Homo sapiens: one gene and its partner. The main gene of each other region encodes a partner of the protein of the gene in region 2 in a complex. Each region holds a gene or a part of one and is shown on either strand. Other genes may lie near its edges. A codon is read from its position in the direction of its gene.

Evidence for each region.
Region 1: the proteins of EFHB (region 2) and TUBB4B are in contact, whole or in part, in a cryo-EM structure (PDB 7UNG), measured with the Homo sapiens proteins. Residues at the interface, in NP_653316.3 of Homo sapiens: Tyr523, Gly524, Val525, Gly526, Leu528, Ile529, His530, Asn531, Arg532, Tyr537, Arg539, Asp542, Arg545, Ala546, Ala549, Ala550, Arg552, His553, Lys556, Tyr608, Asn624, Phe625, Trp628, Asp630, Lys631, Thr686, Leu687, Leu688, Ser691, Asp692; in NP_006079.1 of Homo sapiens: Asp26 (codon at 5,092), Glu27 (codon at 5,095), Asp31 (codon at 5,107), Pro32 (codon at 5,110), Thr33 (codon at 5,113), His37 (codon at 5,125), Gly38 (codon at 5,128), Asp39 (codon at 5,131), Ser40 (codon at 5,134), Leu42 (codon at 5,140), Gln43 (codon at 5,143), Thr55 (codon at 5,179), Gly56 (codon at 5,182), Gly57 (codon at 5,266), Lys58 (codon at 5,269), Ser78 (codon at 5,329), Gly79 (codon at 5,332), Pro80 (codon at 5,335), Phe81 (codon at 5,338), Gln83 (codon at 5,344), Leu215 (codon at 6,214), Lys216 (codon at 6,217), Leu217 (codon at 6,220), Thr219 (codon at 6,226), Thr221 (codon at 6,232), Asp224 (codon at 6,241), His227 (codon at 6,250), Pro243 (codon at 6,298), Gln245 (codon at 6,304), Phe270 (codon at 6,379).

The regions. Positions count from the first base shown.
Region 1 is NC_000009.12:137,236,648-137,245,247, forward strand, and holds TUBB4B (tubulin beta-4B chain), read left to right. Parts: upstream 1-4,639; 5' UTR 4,640-4,713; coding exon 4,714-4,770; intron 4,771-5,073; coding exon 5,074-5,182; intron 5,183-5,263; coding exon 5,264-5,374; intron 5,375-5,848; coding exon 5,849-6,909; 3' UTR 6,910-7,052; downstream 7,053-8,600. Other genes in the region: CIMIP2A (ciliary microtubule inner protein 2A), read right to left, coding at 7,053-7,141, 7,524-7,641, 7,995-8,089, 8,442-8,571. UniProt on the Homo sapiens protein: Tubulin is the major constituent of microtubules, a cylinder consisting of laterally associated linear protofilaments composed of alpha- and beta-tubulin heterodimers.
Region 2 is NC_000003.12:19,930,467-19,939,316, reverse strand, and holds the start of EFHB (EF-hand domain-containing family member B), read left to right. Parts: upstream 1-5,099; 5' UTR 5,100-5,298; coding exon 5,299-6,087; intron 6,088-8,850. UniProt on the Homo sapiens protein: Microtubule inner protein (MIP) part of the dynein-decorated doublet microtubules (DMTs) in cilia axoneme, which is required for motile cilia beating.

The DNA of each region.
Region 1 (8,600 bases), on a different chromosome or scaffold from region 2:
GCTCAGGCACAGGAGCCCGCCCACCCCAAGGTGTGTTTCTCACGGCAGCCGCTGGGGACAGAAGCTCCCAAGGAATGGCGGGCCTGGGGGGGCGGGGACTTCCCACAGTGGGAGCTGGGGCCCCTCCTGGGGGCGCAGGGGAGAGCCCAGCCAGCAGGGAGCAGGGCCGGTGGTGCAGGGTGTGGGGGATCCCGGAGCTCCTCTGCCCCGGCGGATGTCATGGTTGGGGTGGGGACTGGAGTCCCATCAGGTGCGTGGGGTGTGAGAAGGGACCCTGACGGCTTGGAGGGCCAGGTGGTCCCAGAGGCACCACCTGTCTGTCTGCCCTCTGTGTCTCTCAGCCGGTCCTGGGCTGGGCCCCTCGGGGACACTTCTCTGCAGGGCTGGGCCACGGCAGGTGCTCAGCTCCCAGAACCCACCAGGAAGCCAGTCTCACCCGCCAGGCTGGGGCACACTGAGGCCTCCCACTGCCACGGAGAATGAGACCCTGTCCCGGGAAGGCCTGTCCGTGGGGTGGGCCCAGGAGGGCGGACAGCACCCATGGGGAGGACTTGGGGGCCAGGGGGCCCTCCCTCTGCTGTGTGGTCGGGTTTCCACACAGGAAGGCTTGTCTGCCAGCCAATGGGTAACTGGACACCTAGGAAGTTGAGGGGGGGCTCCTGCCACCTCTAGCCCAGAGCTGCCCACAGCCCTAACCCAACCCCCACTCCCGCCAAGGGAAGAAAGCCTTGGGTTACCCCAGAACTGGAGCATTCATTCAGGCACACAGAGACGGGTGGGTGAGGGGACGGTCCCATCAGGGACAGGTCTAGTTTGCTCATTTGAGTCTGCTGCTGTGGCCAGTCACGTTCTCCCTTCCAGAACTGCAGCCCTGTTGGGGGGCAGCTCTCTTCCCAGAGCCTCCCAGGATTGCCTGGTCAGACCCCACTAGGGGATAGAGGTGCAGCCACTCAGGAAGATGAGGCCTGAGGGGGCCCCACGGCCACTTCTCCTCTGTGGCTCTGTTCTTTTCTGCCCTCAGTTTCCCTTTGCCCCTGCTCATGACCCCCAGACCCTCTGTGCCCTTGGCCCCCAGTCTTCCCTGGGTCCTCTGCCCCAGCCACCCCTCAAACTCTTAGGCCTCCTGGGCCTTGGTTTCACCTACCGAGGGAGGTGACCACCTGCTCTGGGAGCCAGGGGTGCCTCAGGGGTGGGCTCCAGTGAGAATGGGACCCCCAGCAGCTAGAGCTTTGGTTCTCACAGCCCTGTGATTCTAGGACGCCCCTGTGGACCTGACATCAGCCTCATAGAACCGTCTGGCACCCCTGTAGGGGACAAGCCTGGCTAGCTCCCTGGGGAGCCTGAGGGGCCGGGGAGCTCCCCTGTCCTTTGGGGGGGGATCAGTGAGGCCCTTGTGGAGAGAGGGAGGAAGCACCCCATGCACCTGTCCTTCCAGGGCAGGTGAGGCCTCCCACAAAGGCTGGGCGTCTGGTCCTTTAAGGCAGCCAATACTGTCTGCCTGCTGTCCCTGCCTGGCGGTAACACACCCTCCCACTGGGACCATGGCCACCAGTAAACAGAGCCTTCGTTGTGGATCCTCCGACAGCTGCAGGAGGAGGAGGGCAGGTGCCCAGCACTCCCACAGCCACGCCTGCCCCGCTTCCCTGCCCTTCTGGCCCTCCTTGGACCACATCCTGCCTGGCCACAGACCCCAGGCCCAGGAGTTGGTCCTCCTGCCCCACACTATCCCGCCTCTCCATCCTGCAGCAGGGCACCTTGGCTCAGGGTGGGACCTACAGAGCCTTCCCCAACCAGTTTTGTGCAACAGGGGTGGCTGCTGTCCTTGTTGGGCTCAGGCCCAGGCTTCAGGGTGTCTACTGCTGTCTTGTCCCCAGCCAGTGTCCACCTCACCAGGGCAATGCAAGGGCAAAGTAGGCAAGCTGGTGCCATGGCGAGCTCTGGGGCTCTCACCTGGGCAGGTGACACCTGTGAAACGGGTGGCACACTGACCTCCCAGCCCTGTGGGCACTGGTCACAGGAAGCAGGGGCCTTTACTGGAGAGGGGTTGGGAGACTCTGACAAGGTGCAGGAATGCCACACACCTCAAAGAGCAGCCTCAGTTGGGCTCTGCACAGTTCACTGAGGAAAAAAACAGAGCTTCTCCTTCTCCCCTTTGTGACAACTCAATGTTATGAGACTCCAACATGTCCCTGACTACTGCCTGGACAGCTGAGCTACTCTGCAGGACCCCAGGATGCCCTGGGCACTAGGAGAAACCTGGGATGGCTGGCAGCAACCTGTGCACCCCTCAGGCCGCTGCAGGACCCCAGTCCCTCTGAGGGTCAAGGCCTGTGTCACAGTGGTCACTGGAAGCCAGGCCCGCCTTCCTGGGCTGATCTGTGGGGGAGGCCACCCTCCTGGACAGGATGGCAAACTGGCAACAGACCCCCGAGGAGTGAGCACAGCTGCAGGCCCTCGCCCCAGAAGGACAATGCTGATCCCCGCGCATGCTCCGGTGCTGCGTGTCCCGAGTTCTGGTATCGCGCATTATGTGGTGAAGACAGAGGTGCAGTCCCTCCAGGAAGAGAGAAATAAATAAGCAGATGTTGTTTCCAACAGCCTCCAATTGGGAGACAGATGCCCAGTGGCCAGAGCACAGGAGACTGTCAGGGCCGACCTGATGGTGTAATTTATTTAAAATGCTACAAAAATACAGCCAGGTGCAGTGGCTCATGCCTGTAATCCCAGCACTTTGGGAGGCCGAGGCGAATGAATCACAAGGTCAGTTCCAGACCAGCCTGGCCAAGATGGTGAAACCCCATCTCTATTAAAAATACAGAAATTAGCCGGGCGTGGTGGCGGGCGCCTGTAATCCCAGCTACTCGGGAGGCTGAGGCAGGAGAATCGCTTGAACCCGGGAGATGGAGGTTGCAGTGAGCCGAGATCATGCCACTGCACTCCAGCCTGAGCGACGGAGCCAGACTCTGTCTCAAAAAAAAAAAAAAAAAAAAATAGCCAGGCGTGGTGGTGCACACCTGTAGTTCCAGCTACTTGGGAAGGTGAGGCAGGCGAATTGCTTGAACCGGGGAGGCAGAGGTTGCAGCGAGCTGAGATTGCGCCACTGCACTCCAGCCTAGGCGACAAGAGCAAAACTCCATCTCAAAAAAAAAAGAAAAAAGCTACAAAAATGTAGAAGGCACGGCGGCTCATTCCCGTAAATCCGAGCACTTGGGGAGGCCGAGGCGGGCGGATCACTTGAGGTCAGGAGTTTCAGACCAGCTTGGCCAACATGGTGAAATCCCATTTCTACCAAAAATACAAAAATTAGCGGCGTGGTGGTGGGTGCCTGCAGTCCCACCTACTGGGGAGGCTGAGGCAGAAGAATCGCTTGAACCTGGGGGGGGGCGGGGAGCCAAGATCGCGCCACTGCACTCCAGCCCGGGAGACAGAGCGAGACTCTGTCTCAGAATAATAAATTAAGTAAAATAAAAATGCTGCAAAAATACAGCCCGTTTGTTTTTAAACAGGCGCAACCACATGTAATTCATTTTAAGTTTCTTTTCCCACCCAAGTAAAAATCAAGTCATAAATTAGGAAAAGCATTAACAGAAGTATGTTTCAGCCCCAGCGCGCTGACCTGTGGTTGGAATACCGGCCCTGGAGCCCGGAGGTCGGGGCCCACCCGCCGAGGGAGGTCTGGGCGCTGTCCTGGTCTCCACGGAGCTCGCGCACTCACGGGGCCGAGGCACCAAGGCGACCGGCGCAGAGCCAGCGCCGTCTCCACAACAGGGCAGGGCGCGCAGCTGCGGGGGAGGCCTCGCCCCTCCGCTCCCCTCCCCTGCCCTCCGCCCCGGCCCTCGGGGCGCGGCGTCCCCCACGTGCTCCCCTCACGCGACCGCGAGGGCAGTGGGCGTGCGGCACCCGGGAGCAGGAAACTCCGTGGCCTCTGCGGCTCTGTGGAGAGCTCCCCTCCACCGCCGCAGCCCCCGAGCCCGTGTATCTTCCTGCCTTTAAGGCATCGCAGCCTCCTCGGCCTGGAGGCCCCGGGCTCGCTCCGTGCGGACCCCGCTCCAGAACCCGCCCAGCGCGCAGATGCCGTGTCCCGGCGCAAGGCCAGAGAGGGCGCAACTCTGGACGTGGGGCCGCCACCGAGCCTGCCCTTCCCGGCTCCCGAAAGGCCCCGGGCTCAGAGCCAAGACTGCGCTTGCCCGAGGCCCGTCGGGCCCGCCCTCCCTCGGCGCCCCCAGCGCAGCTGCCCGCCGCCCGACCGGAAGCCCGCACTCGCGCCTGCGCCCCACCCCGTCCGCGCGCCGGCCGCGGCACTGCGGCGGTTACCAGGACGCTGAAGCAGCGCAGCCAATAGCGCCAGCCTGGCGGCGTGCTCCCGGCAGCCAGCCAATGAGACGGCAAATCAATCATTTGAAACACCCAATGGACGGAGCACTGCGGCGCCAGGAGGGGGATTGTGATAGGGAGATAGGAGGCTGCGGCTGACCAATAAAGACCAAACTGGCTTAAAAAGGCGGACCTTAGGCAGCTTGATTGACGGGGGCAAGGCCAATCAAACGAGGGAGCTTGCCAGCCTCGTTCTGGCAGCCCATTCCGAGACTAGCGGAGGCGGGCAGGGAGGGTATATAAGCGTTGGCGGAGCGTCGGTTGTAGCACTCTGCGCGCCCGCTCTTCTGCTGCTGTTTGTCTACTTCCTCCTGCTTCCCCGCCGCCGCCGCCGCCATCATGAGGGAAATCGTGCACTTGCAGGCCGGGCAGTGCGGCAACCAAATCGGCGCCAAGGTAAGTTGCCGGGGCGCTGGGGCCAGGCGGGCCTGCCGGGCGGTGTGGGCGGGCGGCCGGGGAAGATGGCGGCAGCAGCGGCCGGGCGGCGCCCCCGCATTGCGGCCGCCGGGCCCCCTCCGCGGGGAATTGGCCGAGCCGGGCGACCGAAGCCCCCAGGAACCCGGCGGCCAGGGCGCGCGGGGCGGGGGAGGGGCGGGGAGGGCCGGGCTGCCGCGCCCGTCCGGGGCGGGGCTGCCTCCCTGCGCACCGGCCGCGGTGACTCAGCCCCGGCCCGCCCGGGCCCGCCCGCGTCCCTTGTAGTTTTGGGAGGTGATCAGCGATGAGCACGGCATCGACCCCACGGGCACCTACCACGGGGACAGCGACCTGCAGCTGGAACGCATCAACGTGTACTACAATGAGGCCACCGGTGAGGCCCCGGCCCCTTCCCCGACCGCCCTCCGGGGACCCCGCGGCCCCTGCCTTGGCTGACGCCCTCCCGTCCCCGCAGGCGGCAAGTACGTGCCCCGCGCCGTGCTCGTGGATCTGGAGCCCGGCACCATGGACTCCGTGCGCTCGGGGCCCTTCGGGCAGATCTTCCGGCCGGACAACTTCGTTTTCGGTGAGCCGTGGCTGGGGACTGGGCGGCGGCTCAAAGGTCAAGGGGCTGCTCCAAGGGCACCGCCGTGGGAACTGCGCAGCCGGGGCCCCTGGACGCCCTCCTCTTCTCTGAGCCACTCAATCCCCTCTACTAAATCGGCTTTGGGAGCAAGGTCCAGCTGTCTGCCGAGGCGAGGAGCCGCCACACACGTAATCTCCCTGCAGGGAGCTGAGCTGGGGCAGTGGCTGTTCCTCTGTCCTTGGGAATTGGCAGTGGCCCCCCCGGGGAGGGGTTTGTTAAGCTGTCAGGTTTGGCCCCTGACTTAATTCGTAGCAGGGCAGGCTGCCGTCTTTTGGCTTTGAAGGGTCCGTTTGCTCTACCTCCAGGGTGAATTCTGTGGTCAGCTCACACCATGTCACTCGGCTTTTTTCGCATGGCGGTGACCAGTAGTGCTGTCTACCTGGCTGACAAATGATTAGCTGTGTTCTCTCACAGGTCAGAGTGGTGCTGGGAACAACTGGGCCAAGGGGCACTACACAGAAGGCGCGGAGCTGGTGGACTCGGTGCTGGATGTTGTGAGAAAGGAGGCTGAGAGCTGTGACTGCCTGCAGGGTTTCCAGCTGACCCACTCCCTGGGTGGGGGGACTGGGTCTGGGATGGGTACCCTCCTCATCAGCAAGATCCGGGAGGAGTACCCAGACAGGATCATGAACACGTTTAGTGTGGTGCCTTCGCCCAAAGTGTCAGACACAGTGGTGGAGCCCTACAACGCCACCCTCTCAGTCCACCAGCTCGTAGAAAACACAGACGAGACCTACTGCATTGATAACGAAGCTCTCTACGACATTTGCTTCAGAACCCTAAAGCTGACCACGCCCACCTATGGTGACCTGAACCACCTGGTGTCTGCTACCATGAGTGGGGTCACCACCTGCCTGCGCTTCCCAGGCCAGCTCAATGCTGACCTGCGGAAGCTGGCTGTGAACATGGTCCCGTTTCCCCGGCTGCACTTCTTCATGCCCGGCTTTGCCCCACTGACCAGCCGGGGCAGCCAGCAGTACCGGGCGCTGACCGTGCCCGAGCTCACCCAGCAGATGTTTGATGCCAAGAACATGATGGCTGCCTGCGACCCCCGCCATGGCCGCTACCTGACGGTTGCCGCCGTGTTCAGGGGCCGCATGTCCATGAAGGAGGTGGATGAGCAAATGCTTAATGTCCAAAACAAAAACAGCAGCTATTTTGTTGAGTGGATCCCCAACAATGTGAAAACGGCTGTCTGTGACATCCCACCTCGGGGGCTAAAAATGTCCGCCACCTTCATTGGCAACAGCACGGCCATCCAGGAGCTGTTCAAGCGCATCTCCGAGCAGTTCACGGCCATGTTCCGGCGCAAGGCCTTCCTGCACTGGTACACGGGCGAGGGCATGGACGAGATGGAGTTCACCGAGGCCGAGAGCAACATGAATGACCTGGTGTCCGAGTACCAGCAGTACCAGGATGCCACAGCCGAGGAGGAGGGCGAGTTCGAGGAGGAGGCTGAGGAGGAGGTGGCCTAGAGCCTTCAGTCACTGGGGAAAGCAGGGAAGCAGTGTGAACTCTTTATTCACTCCCAGCCTGTCCTGTGGCCTGTCCCACTGTGTGCACTTGCTGTTTTCCCTGTCCACATCCATGCTGTACAGACACCACCATTAAAGCATTTTCATAGTGTGTGGTTTCGCTTTGCCCATTCCTTCCAGTAGGCCCTCCGGGTGCTGTTGCCGAATGTCAGGGCGTAGTTGTCCTGCATGGCTGCGGGGAGCCAGGCTGCAGCTGAGCTGGGCTTATGTGCCCAGGACCAGCATGGGCTGGACACCCAGGCTTCAGAGAAGTGTGGGGCTGCCCTGGGCCCTGGGTATCTGCTTGGTGGGGAACTTGCTTGTTGAAGGCAGGCCTGTCCTGTTCCAGGTACCCAACCTTGGGGCTCGGCCTGTGTCTGGGACTTAGGTGGGTCCAGTGACCCCCCTTCCAAAAGGGGTAGGGAGGATGGCAGACAATCCTACCCCAACCAAGGTGGGACCCTGGTAATGGTCAGACAGGTGGTCCTGAACCAGCAATGAAGGGTGAGCAGGTAGAGCCGTCCCTCCCCACATTGGCCGGGGTGTGTCCATGTGACCCTGCCCACTCTACTCACCGGGGATGAACCCCATGTAGAAGGGGATCAGGCCTTGGCTGCTGTAGATGTGGTTGCTGGGCCAGTGTGTTCCAGGCAGCTTCTCGCCCAGGTCACAGTGGGGGTTTCTAAACAGGAACTGGGGAGACAGGAAGGTGCTAACAAGCTCCCTCCCCGGCAGGCAAACAGATAGTCAAGTTGTCCCAGTGGGGGCCTGGCCGGAGGGCCGGCACTCCGTGGGAAAGCTGCTAATGCTCCCAGCCTTCTGCATCCCCCTACCCCCGACTCCAAAACTTGAGTGCAGGGATCCAAGCAAGACTCAGGAGAGAGGGGTTGGGGCGGCACCTCCGGGGACAGGAGAGAGCCAGGCAGAGCCCCCTCCTCAGGCTTCTCAGGGAACCTGGCCTTCAAGGCACCCTCCAGGGAAGCTGCCAGGCAGGAGAGGAAGTGTGTGTGTGAGCTGGGAGCAGGCCCTGGATGGCGCTTTCCTACCTGGCTCTTGTCGAATTCGTCCATGGCTTGCATGACGCCGTCTCGGTAATTCAACCCCATTACCCAGGTGAAACGGGGAATGAAGCCAGCATAGCCTGGGGGTAGGCAGATGTACGGGCTACCCCAAGCCCCCTTAGCCTTCCCCTGGGCACACCCACCTGCCCTCAGACGTGTCAGGGAAGCCAGGCAAGGCTCCCTTTCGTTCCCTGAACGTTGGCGACTGTCTGATGTGGCCAAATGGGAACAGGCAGGCAAGGCACCGCCTCGTCTTGGGAAAAGCTGGGCTCCTGGAAGCAGCTGGGAGGCAGAGGAGGTCCCCCCAGGCCGCTAGCCTGTTCTGGAGCAGGAAAAGTGGGCCCCTGTGGCAGCCTCCTCAGGGGCTCTCACACTGCAAGAACCTTGTGGGGAGGGGCGGCCTTCTCCAGCCCAGCCCAGGCCCACACCCACCTGAGATGGCCTTGCGTTGGATTAGGTTAGGGTGGTCCAGCTGCGGCAGCCGCTGGAAGCTGCCCACATCTAGCGTCTCCTGCTGGCGGCGGGCGGGGGGTGGGTACTCATCCCTCTGGCAGTGGTACAGCTGGAGCGGGGAGGAAGCGGAGGTCACGG
Region 2 (8,850 bases):
TGGGTTGAGTCTTGAAGAGCATTTACCAGGCAAGGAGGGCAGAGGATGAGTTGGAATAAAGCATTCCAAGCAAGGGGGACAACAGGGGCAAAAGCAGAAAGTCATAAAGTAGGCTGGGCATGTTGACTCGTGCATGTAATCCAGCACTTTGGGAGGCCAAGGCAGGTGGATCACCTGAGGTCAGGAGTTTGAGACCAGCCTGACCAACATGGTGAAACCCTGTCTCTACTGAAAGTACAAAAATTAGCTGGGCATGGTGGCGGGTGCCTGTAGTTTCAGCTACAAGGGAGGCTGAGGCAGGAGAATCGCTTGAGCCCTGGAGACAGAGGTTGCAGTGAGCCAAGATTGTGCCACTGCACTGCAGCCTGGGTGACAGAGTGAGACTCCTTCTCAAAAACAAAACAAAAGCAAACCAGAAAGTCATAAAATAGCCCAGTGTGCGAGTGGAACTACACGCCCTGGGTTGAGCTGTAGTACAGGCCGCAGTAAGGTGGCAAGCGTCAGGGATAAAGCTGAAGAGGTTGGCAGAGACTGGATCACGGAGGTCCAATTTTTGCTTCTGAAGGTTCTCTCTGGCGATCCTTGGGGTGAGGAGAGACTGCAGTGGGCTAACATGAAGGCCAGTGTAAAGGTGATTGCAAGATTCCAGTTAAGATGTAATGAGGTCTAAATCAAGTCTGTGACTGTGAAGATACCAGAGATGTTGACCCACATCTCTTATTTTTTTCCTAACATTTTATGATGAACATTTTCAAACATTCAGAAAATCAAAGTAATTGTACTGTGAACACCCATATATCTACCACCCAGATTCTACAATTAGCATTTTACTACACTTGGCTTTATCACATATGTCCAGCCATGTATCAACACTTTATGCATTTCAAAATTATGAGCATGTGTACACATTCCTTTAAACATTTCATCATGCATGCCATTTACTAGAGTTCAATATGTGAACCTTTTTAAAGTTCAAATATCCATAAAATGAAGTAAATGCAAGCGTCTTAAGAGTATAATTTCATGTTTTGACAAATGTATATACCTGTGTAATCCACATCCCTATTGAGATACGGAACACTACCGTAATCTCAGAAAGTTGCCACATGTCCTTTCCCAGTCAATCACAGCCCTTTCTCCTTTCAGAGTTGGCCTTGAGTTTGGAATGTGTGAAAATAGACATTCCAGGTGAAGGGAACCTAGGTGGCTCCCTCTCCAGCAAAGGCATGGAGGCAGGTAACTAGGGAAGAACACATAAATGTTAGTAAACAAGTTCGGATGGATGCCCTTCAGTCTTCCACCTCTCTCACTACTAAGCCCCGTCTTTTTGGGTCAAAGCATAAAACATTGAAGTAGAGAGGAGTTGAGTCAAGGGACTGTCAGGCCGCAGGAGCTAACAGTCTTCAGGGGAGGAGGAGACAGAAGCACTGACAGTCACAATTTAGTGTAACAAATGTTGAATGTTATCTTGTACCAGGGTCAGGGCTATAACCAAGGGAAGGGCAGAAAGTTAGGTAAAATACCACAAATATGCCACAAGCGTTTGTTGTATGTGTGTATGTCTGAGAGAGAGAAGTGATAAGGTGAGTGACTCAGACTCTTGGTACTGGAGGAGCTCAAAGGAAAAGAGAGAAGAGTATTTACCAGCCATGAAAAGTTTTCTGGAGGTAAAGTCTTAAGGGATGTTGACTGTTAAGTGTGGTAGACATAAAGATGTTTCAGTTACAGATAACAGAAAATGTGAGTCAAGCAGGGACATTGGCCCATGTGACTGGTAAGTCTAGAGTTATGTGAGTTTTAGGTACAGTTTGATCAGAGCTTTGGTCCTGATGATCTCGGTGCTCTCCTATTTTGTGTGTGTTAGCTTTGTCTTCAGAATACTTCTTCATGGTCACAATATGACTGTCTGTAGCAGTTTAAAAATTGAGCTGCTATAGTAAATTCTTGGGCATTCTCAATACTTGAGTATGGAACATGTGCATGTGGAAGGAAATAACATTGCACTTTATAAACACTGTATTGCAAATGGAAAATGCAATGTCTTAAATAAAACTATTTAAATTTGGCACCATAAAAAAAGAACTAAGGAGAAGAATATTTATATTAACCTTCTAGAAAGTTGTAGAAAATAGTTTTTTGTGTTTTTTTTTGAGACAGTCTTATTCTGTTATCCAGGCTGGAGTGCAGTGGTGCGATCTCGGCTCACTGCAACCTCTGCCTCCCCGGTTCAAGTGATTCTCCTGCCTCAGCCTCCCGAGTAGCTGAGATTACAAGTGAGCATCACAATGCCCAGTTAATTTTTGTATTTTTAGTAGAGATGGGGTTTCGTCATGTTGGCCAGGCTGGTCTCGAACTCAAGTGATCCTCCTGCCTCAGCCTCCCTAGTATATCCTTCTCACTTTTTATTTATTTATTTATTTATTTATTTATTTATTTATTTATTATTTTGAGATGGAGTTTGGCTCTTGTCATCCAGGCTGGAGTGCAATGGCGCAATCTTGGCTCACTGCAACCTCCACCTCCTGGGTTCAAGCGATTCTCCTTCCTCAGCCTCCCTAGTAGCTGGGATTACAAGTGCTGGCCACCATGTCCAGCTCATTTTTGTATTTTTAGTAGAAAGAGGGTTTCACCATGTTGGTCAGGCTGGTCTCGAACTCCTGACCTCAAATGATCCACCCGCCTAGGCCTCCCACAGTGCTGGGATTACAGGTATGAGCCACTGCGCCTGGCCTTATTTTTTATTTTTATTTTTTGAGACAGGATCTCACTGTATCACCCAGGCTAGAGTGTAGTGGCATGATCATATCTCACTACAGCCTTCAATTCCTGGGCTCAAGTGATCCTCCCACCTCAGCCTCCTGAGTAGCTAGGACTATAGGCATGTACCACTACACCTGGCTGATTTTTGAAATTTTTTGTAGGGATAGGTCTCACTGTGTTACCCATGCATGTCTTGAACTCCTGGACTTTTTTTTTTTTCAGTCTGTCGCCCAGGCTGGCATGCAATGGTGCAATGATGGCTCACTGCCGCATAGACCTCCTGGGCTCAAGTGATCCTCCCACTTCAGCCTCTCAGATAGCTGAGACTACAGATGTGAGCCACCACGCTGGGCTAATTGAATTCTTGGCGTTAAGCAATTCTTCTGCCTTGGCTTCCCGAAGTGTTGAGATTACAGGTGAGTGACTATGTCCAGACCCCTACACACTTTTAAAAAAATATTTTTGGATTTTAAGGGGTTTTTGTAGAGTTCTGGAATCCTGTAAATTCTTTTCAAATTCTGTTTTGCTTTTTTTTTTTTTTTTTTTTTGAGATGGAGTCTCACTCTGTCGCCAGGCTGGAGTGCAGTGGTGTGATCTCGGCTTACTGCAACCTCCGCCTCCCAGGTTCAAGCGATTCTTCTACCTCAGCCTCCCAAGTAGCTGGGACTACAGGCGCCTGCCATCAGGCCCAGCTAATTTTTGTATTTTAAGTAGAAACGGGGTTTCACCATGTTGGCCAGGATGGTCTCGAACTCCTGACCTCGTGATCCACCCGCCTCTACCTCCCAAAGTGCCGGGATTACAGGCATGAGCCACTGCGCCCGGCCATTTTTGGTTTTTTATTTTTAAATGGAATCTCACTCTGTTGTTCAGGCTTGAGTGTCGTGGCACCATCAAGGCTCACTGCAACCTCTGCCTCCGGGTTTAAATGATTCTCTTGCCTCAGCCTCCTGAGTAGCTGGGATTACAGGCGCTGGACACCATGCCCAGCTAATTTTTATATTTTTAGTAGAGACAGGGTTTCGCGATGTTGGCCAGGCTGGTCTCAAACTCCTGACCTCAAGTGATCTGCCTGCCTCGGCCTCCCAAAGTGCTGGGATTAAAGGTGTGAGCCACTGTGCCCAGCCTAATTCAGTTCAAATTCCAAGCTAGGGGTTTCATATCCTATATGTGTAGAACATGACAAATATTTACCAAATATACTTTCATTAAAATCTGAAAGGTGAAACCTCAATTTAAAAAAAAATCTCCTACTTAAAAACAATGAAGTTTTAGTTTGCCACATTATCTTTAAAATACAATATGCCTTATTGTGTAGCATATCTCAAACTTTAAAATATTTAGTTTAGGCCAGGAGCAGTGGCTCACGCCTGTAATCCGACACTTTGGAAGGCCGAGGCGGTGGATCACTTGAGGTCAGGTGTTTGAGACCAGCCTGGCCAACATGGTGAAACCCCGTTTCTACTCAAGATACAAAAATTAGCCTAGCATGGTGGCGCATGCCTGTAATCCCAGCTACCCGGAAGGCTGAGGCAGGAGAATCGCTTGGACCCAGGAGGCGGAGTTTGCAGTGAGCCCAGATTGTGCCACTGCACTCCAGCCTGGGCGACAAAGGGAGACTCCATCTCAAAAAAAAAAAAAATTACTTTAAATGTGATTTAAAGCCTAGTTGTTAAAGTGTAAGTGTTCTCAAGGACTTTAAGATGTCTTTATGCCACAGTTGTCAAATATAATATTTCTAGAATTTAAAGTCATTTTTTAGCACTAAAATAACTACATGCAGGGCGGAGGTACTTGGACAAGGAAGGACCTAAAAAAAGTGTTCATCACCAGAAAGTTTATTTGTTCATCATCACCAACATTAAGAGGCCAATGGCCAGGAAGAAGCCAATTGTTGAAACCATTCTAAAACGACTGTGTTGCTTGGGAAACCAGAGAAGTTGGTGAACATTTGATGCGCCGAAAGCCACATCACTCAAATTTTCTCGCCCTCCAAATCTAGCAAAGAAAAAGAGAGAGGAAGCAGGGATAGAGGGGAAGAGGGGGAGGGAGGGGAGAGAGGGAGAAAGGAGAGAGGAAAGGCAAGAGAGAGAGACACACAGAGAGGGAGAGAGAGGGAGAGGGCAAAGGAGAGGAGAGGGAGAGAGAGGAGAGAGAAGGGGGGGCAGAGAGAAACAGAGGAGAGAGAAGAGGGGAGAGAGAGAGACAGAGGAGAGAGAAGAGGGGAGAGAGAGAGAGATTGAGAGAGAGAGAGAGAAGAATGAGAGATGGGCAGGGATCTGTCCAAGCAGGACTTGAGCGCCAAGCCCCGCCCCTGTTTCCCAGGTAACCTGATAAACAGACTCCATCTTTTCCTCTGTGAACTCGGCTAGGTGTTAAGAGGCAGGCAGGAAGCAATGGACAGGGAGTCCGAGTGAGGTTGTGCTCTTTCCTGAGAGAGGGGTTCCGCAAGGGATTGGAGGCGTCTTTGTAGCCAGGTACAGCTTTCCCCTTAGAGATGAGCGCTCTTGGAGAAATGAGAATGGGGAGAAATCGTCCATGAACATGGAGATTGGACATCCCCACGAAGGAAAGGATGATTTAGGAGACAAGAGGGTCATCATGGGAACAAAATTTCCCATGGAGTTGGGGATCAGAGTAGGATTAGGAAAAGAAGATTCCCGATGCGGGGAGAGCCCTGTGGTTAGTAATAAGTGTGAGGGAAGGATGGCACCACCAGAAACAAAATTTCCATTGAGCAAGGGGCTTGAAATGGGATTAGAAAGACAGAATATTTCTAGGACTGTCATGCAGAGGGGTAGTTTAGGAGTCGACAGTGTCTCAGCTTCACAGGGAACAAAACCTTCTCTGTTGCCAGGAAGAATGGGGTTAGAAAATGAGAGTCTTCTTGCAGGATATACCCATGAACGGATAATACAGCCTCCTTTGGGCAGGGTGTGTGGAAGTTCACAGGCTGCAGGGAGCAGGAGAGCTCCTTTGGCTAGTGGCCCTGAAGGGGTAGAGGAATTAGTGGGAAAGCCTGCTTTCGTTATGGAACCAAGACAGGAAATGGAAAAAGAGTCTACCTGTGTTTTAATGAAACCCAACACAGAGATTAAGCTTCCTGTGGAGGTGGACATTGGACTAACCCAAGCCGAGGGGCCAGATGAGACTAAGAATACAGAGCCCCAAATGGGCTTGGTGATAGAACCTCCCCAATGCCAGTTTGCCCAACAACATGAACAGAGAAAGGAGGCTGGAAACATTGAATCAGGAGTGGAACCTCCAGATCGCATCAGACCCATATACTCTGGGAAGTTTTTTGATCGGACCCCTTGCTGGCCAAGTGTAAGTTTTTTTCCACTTTCCATAGGAACTAAACTGTGTATAGCCATGTCTTTATTGAGATGATAAAGTGATAAAATTTGTTTTGGTTTGAAGAGACAAATCACAAGGATTTTATGAGATTCCTATATTTCTTGCCCCACTGGAATCTTTGCAGATGTTACTTAGATTTCTGATTCTCTGCCTCCCTTCCTAGATGTCAGCTTTGTTTTCTCTGCACACCGGTGGTTTGTTCTGATTTCTCTTTTCTCCTTTAACCTTCATTTCATTTTCCTCAAGCCTCTCACATATTGAAATACATGAAGATACATGCTGTGCCCTAATATTCATACTATGAATGGAAAAGAAAAGTGTTTCTTTTTCCATTCATTGTTTAGTCTGTGAGTTATTTGTTCTTTCAGCAAAGACTTGTGGTAGCCATTGTGCCAGGTACAGGACAAACTAAATTGAAAAGTACATGGTCCCTACCTCTAGGTTTAGGCTCACTCCAGTAATGGAGACAGATAACTAAAGGAATAGTATACAGTTATCTAAATTTATAAAAACACACATGATTCTTCCTTCATAGAAGTACACTCTGAATACAGAGCTCAGTGTAAAGATTGCACAATTCTGTTTAGAAGAGATGGGAAAAGCTTAATAGGGAAAGTAATATTTGAGCTAACATCGAAAGGTGTCAGTATTTGTCTGAAGAAAGAATGAGGTTAGAGCATTTTGGGCATAAAAAGGTATAGAGCACAACCAAAGCTTCCTATGTTCGAGAGGCATAAACAGTTGTATTCAGCCAGCAGGGTGTTGAGAGATGAAGATGAAGAAGAAATATGTAGAAGACATCTAAAGGCCCAGAATATAGGGATAAAACATATGGATACAGTATCAATGGTGGATCTTAATAAGGGTAAAAATAAATAAAATTTGCCTTTTAGAAAGATAATTCTGATATCAGTAGTTATGATGGACTGGAAGGGGGAGATACTGAATGACAAGTAGGTAGTTAGAACAACATTCCAAAGTTCTGATGGACTGGAATTAATGTAGAGTTAGAAAGAATAGAAAGGAGACTGCACTTTTGAGAGGTTTTTAGATGACATTTTAAAAAATTGCCACTCAGTTGTGGATCTACGTGGTGAGTAAGGGAAGTTGGTGGATGACTCAGGAGTTTCTGTGTTGATAATGATCTCTTTGGGTTTGGTGGCAAATGAATGTCCAGTGTTGGCTATCTTCAATATGAGATGACAGGTAAAGAAGCCAGGGAAACACTTGGTAATATGAGACAATTGATGCCCCATGGGTGTGAATGGGAGAAGAAAGTCAAGGCAAGAATCTTGGGAAACATTGACATGAGGTGGTCAGTGAAAAAGATGTCAATAAGGTGAGTTCTTGAGGGCAAGGACTATATCTTGTTCATTGTTTACCTTCATGTCATACCACAATACCTGGCTTATGGTGGTCATTCAATAAATACATGTTTGATAAATAGAAGGAAACCCGGATGATTAAATGGGAGAAAGACCAGTCGGAGAAGAAAAAAGTAAGTCTGAGACATTGGTATTGAGAAACATAAGAAAGTGTCCTTAAGTTATAATGTGAGTAAGAGATTCCACACACTGAAATTTGAAAATAAAACTCAGCTGAAGAGGTCACAGGGCTTCCACAGAATTTTGTCTGGGTTTGAAGACTTTTCCCCTTCAGACTCAGAATGTTCTTTTCTTCTTTGTCTCACACTGCTTTCTGGTTTCCTCTTTGGGTTTTCCCAGCCACTTTACTTGACCACACCGGTTCCCATTTCTGGATTGGTTCTGCAATTTACAGCTTCTGATCTGATCTGATCTCACACACATGCAGACACCAGCTTCCAGTTTCCAGCACAGGCAATTCTAAAACCTCTGCTTCCTCCCACTTCGCATACCTTCCTTTCTAAATGTGATAGGACAAGAAAGAGAGTGTCAAGGAGAGAGTGACCAGCAGTGTTAAATCATCTCTGATAGGCCTTGTGCAGTGGCACTAGCTGTAATCCCAGCACTTTGGGAGGCTGAGGCAGGAGGGTTTTTTTGTTTTGTTTTGTTTTTTGAGACAGAGTCTCACTCCATCACCCAGGCTGGAGTGCAGGGGTGCAATCTCAGCTTGCTGCAAACTCGGCCTCCCAGGCTTAAGCGATTCTTGTGCCTCAGCCTCCCAGTAGCTGGAATTCTAGGAGCATGCCACCACACCCGGCTAATTTTTTTTCCTTCTTTTTTTTCTAAATTTAATTTTTGTATTTTTAATAGAGAAGGGGTTTCGCCATGTTGGCCAGGCTGGTCCCCTACTCCTGACCTCAAGTGTTCGGCCCACCTTGGCCTCCCAAAGTGCTGGGATTACAGGCATGAGCCACCACGCCCAGCAGGCAGCAGGATTTCTCGAGGCCAGGAGTTTGTCATCAGCCTGGGCAACATAGCAAGACTCTGCCTATACAAAAAAGAAAAATTAGCCAGGTGTGGTAGTATGTGCCTGTAGTCCTAGCTACTTGGGAGAGGTGCGAAGATCATTTGAGCCTGGGAGTTCAAGGTTCCAGTGAGCTATGATCACACCACTGCATTCCAGTCTGGGTGACAAAATGAGATCCTGTCTCTAAAAATAAAGTAAAAATAAGATTAATTAACTTTGGACATTAAGAAATTACCAACATTGTTAGAACGACATAATAGAAAAAGAATTCAGATTATAATATACTGAAGAGCGAATGGGTTATTAGAATCGGAGAAAGCTATCATGAAATTTTTTTCTCTT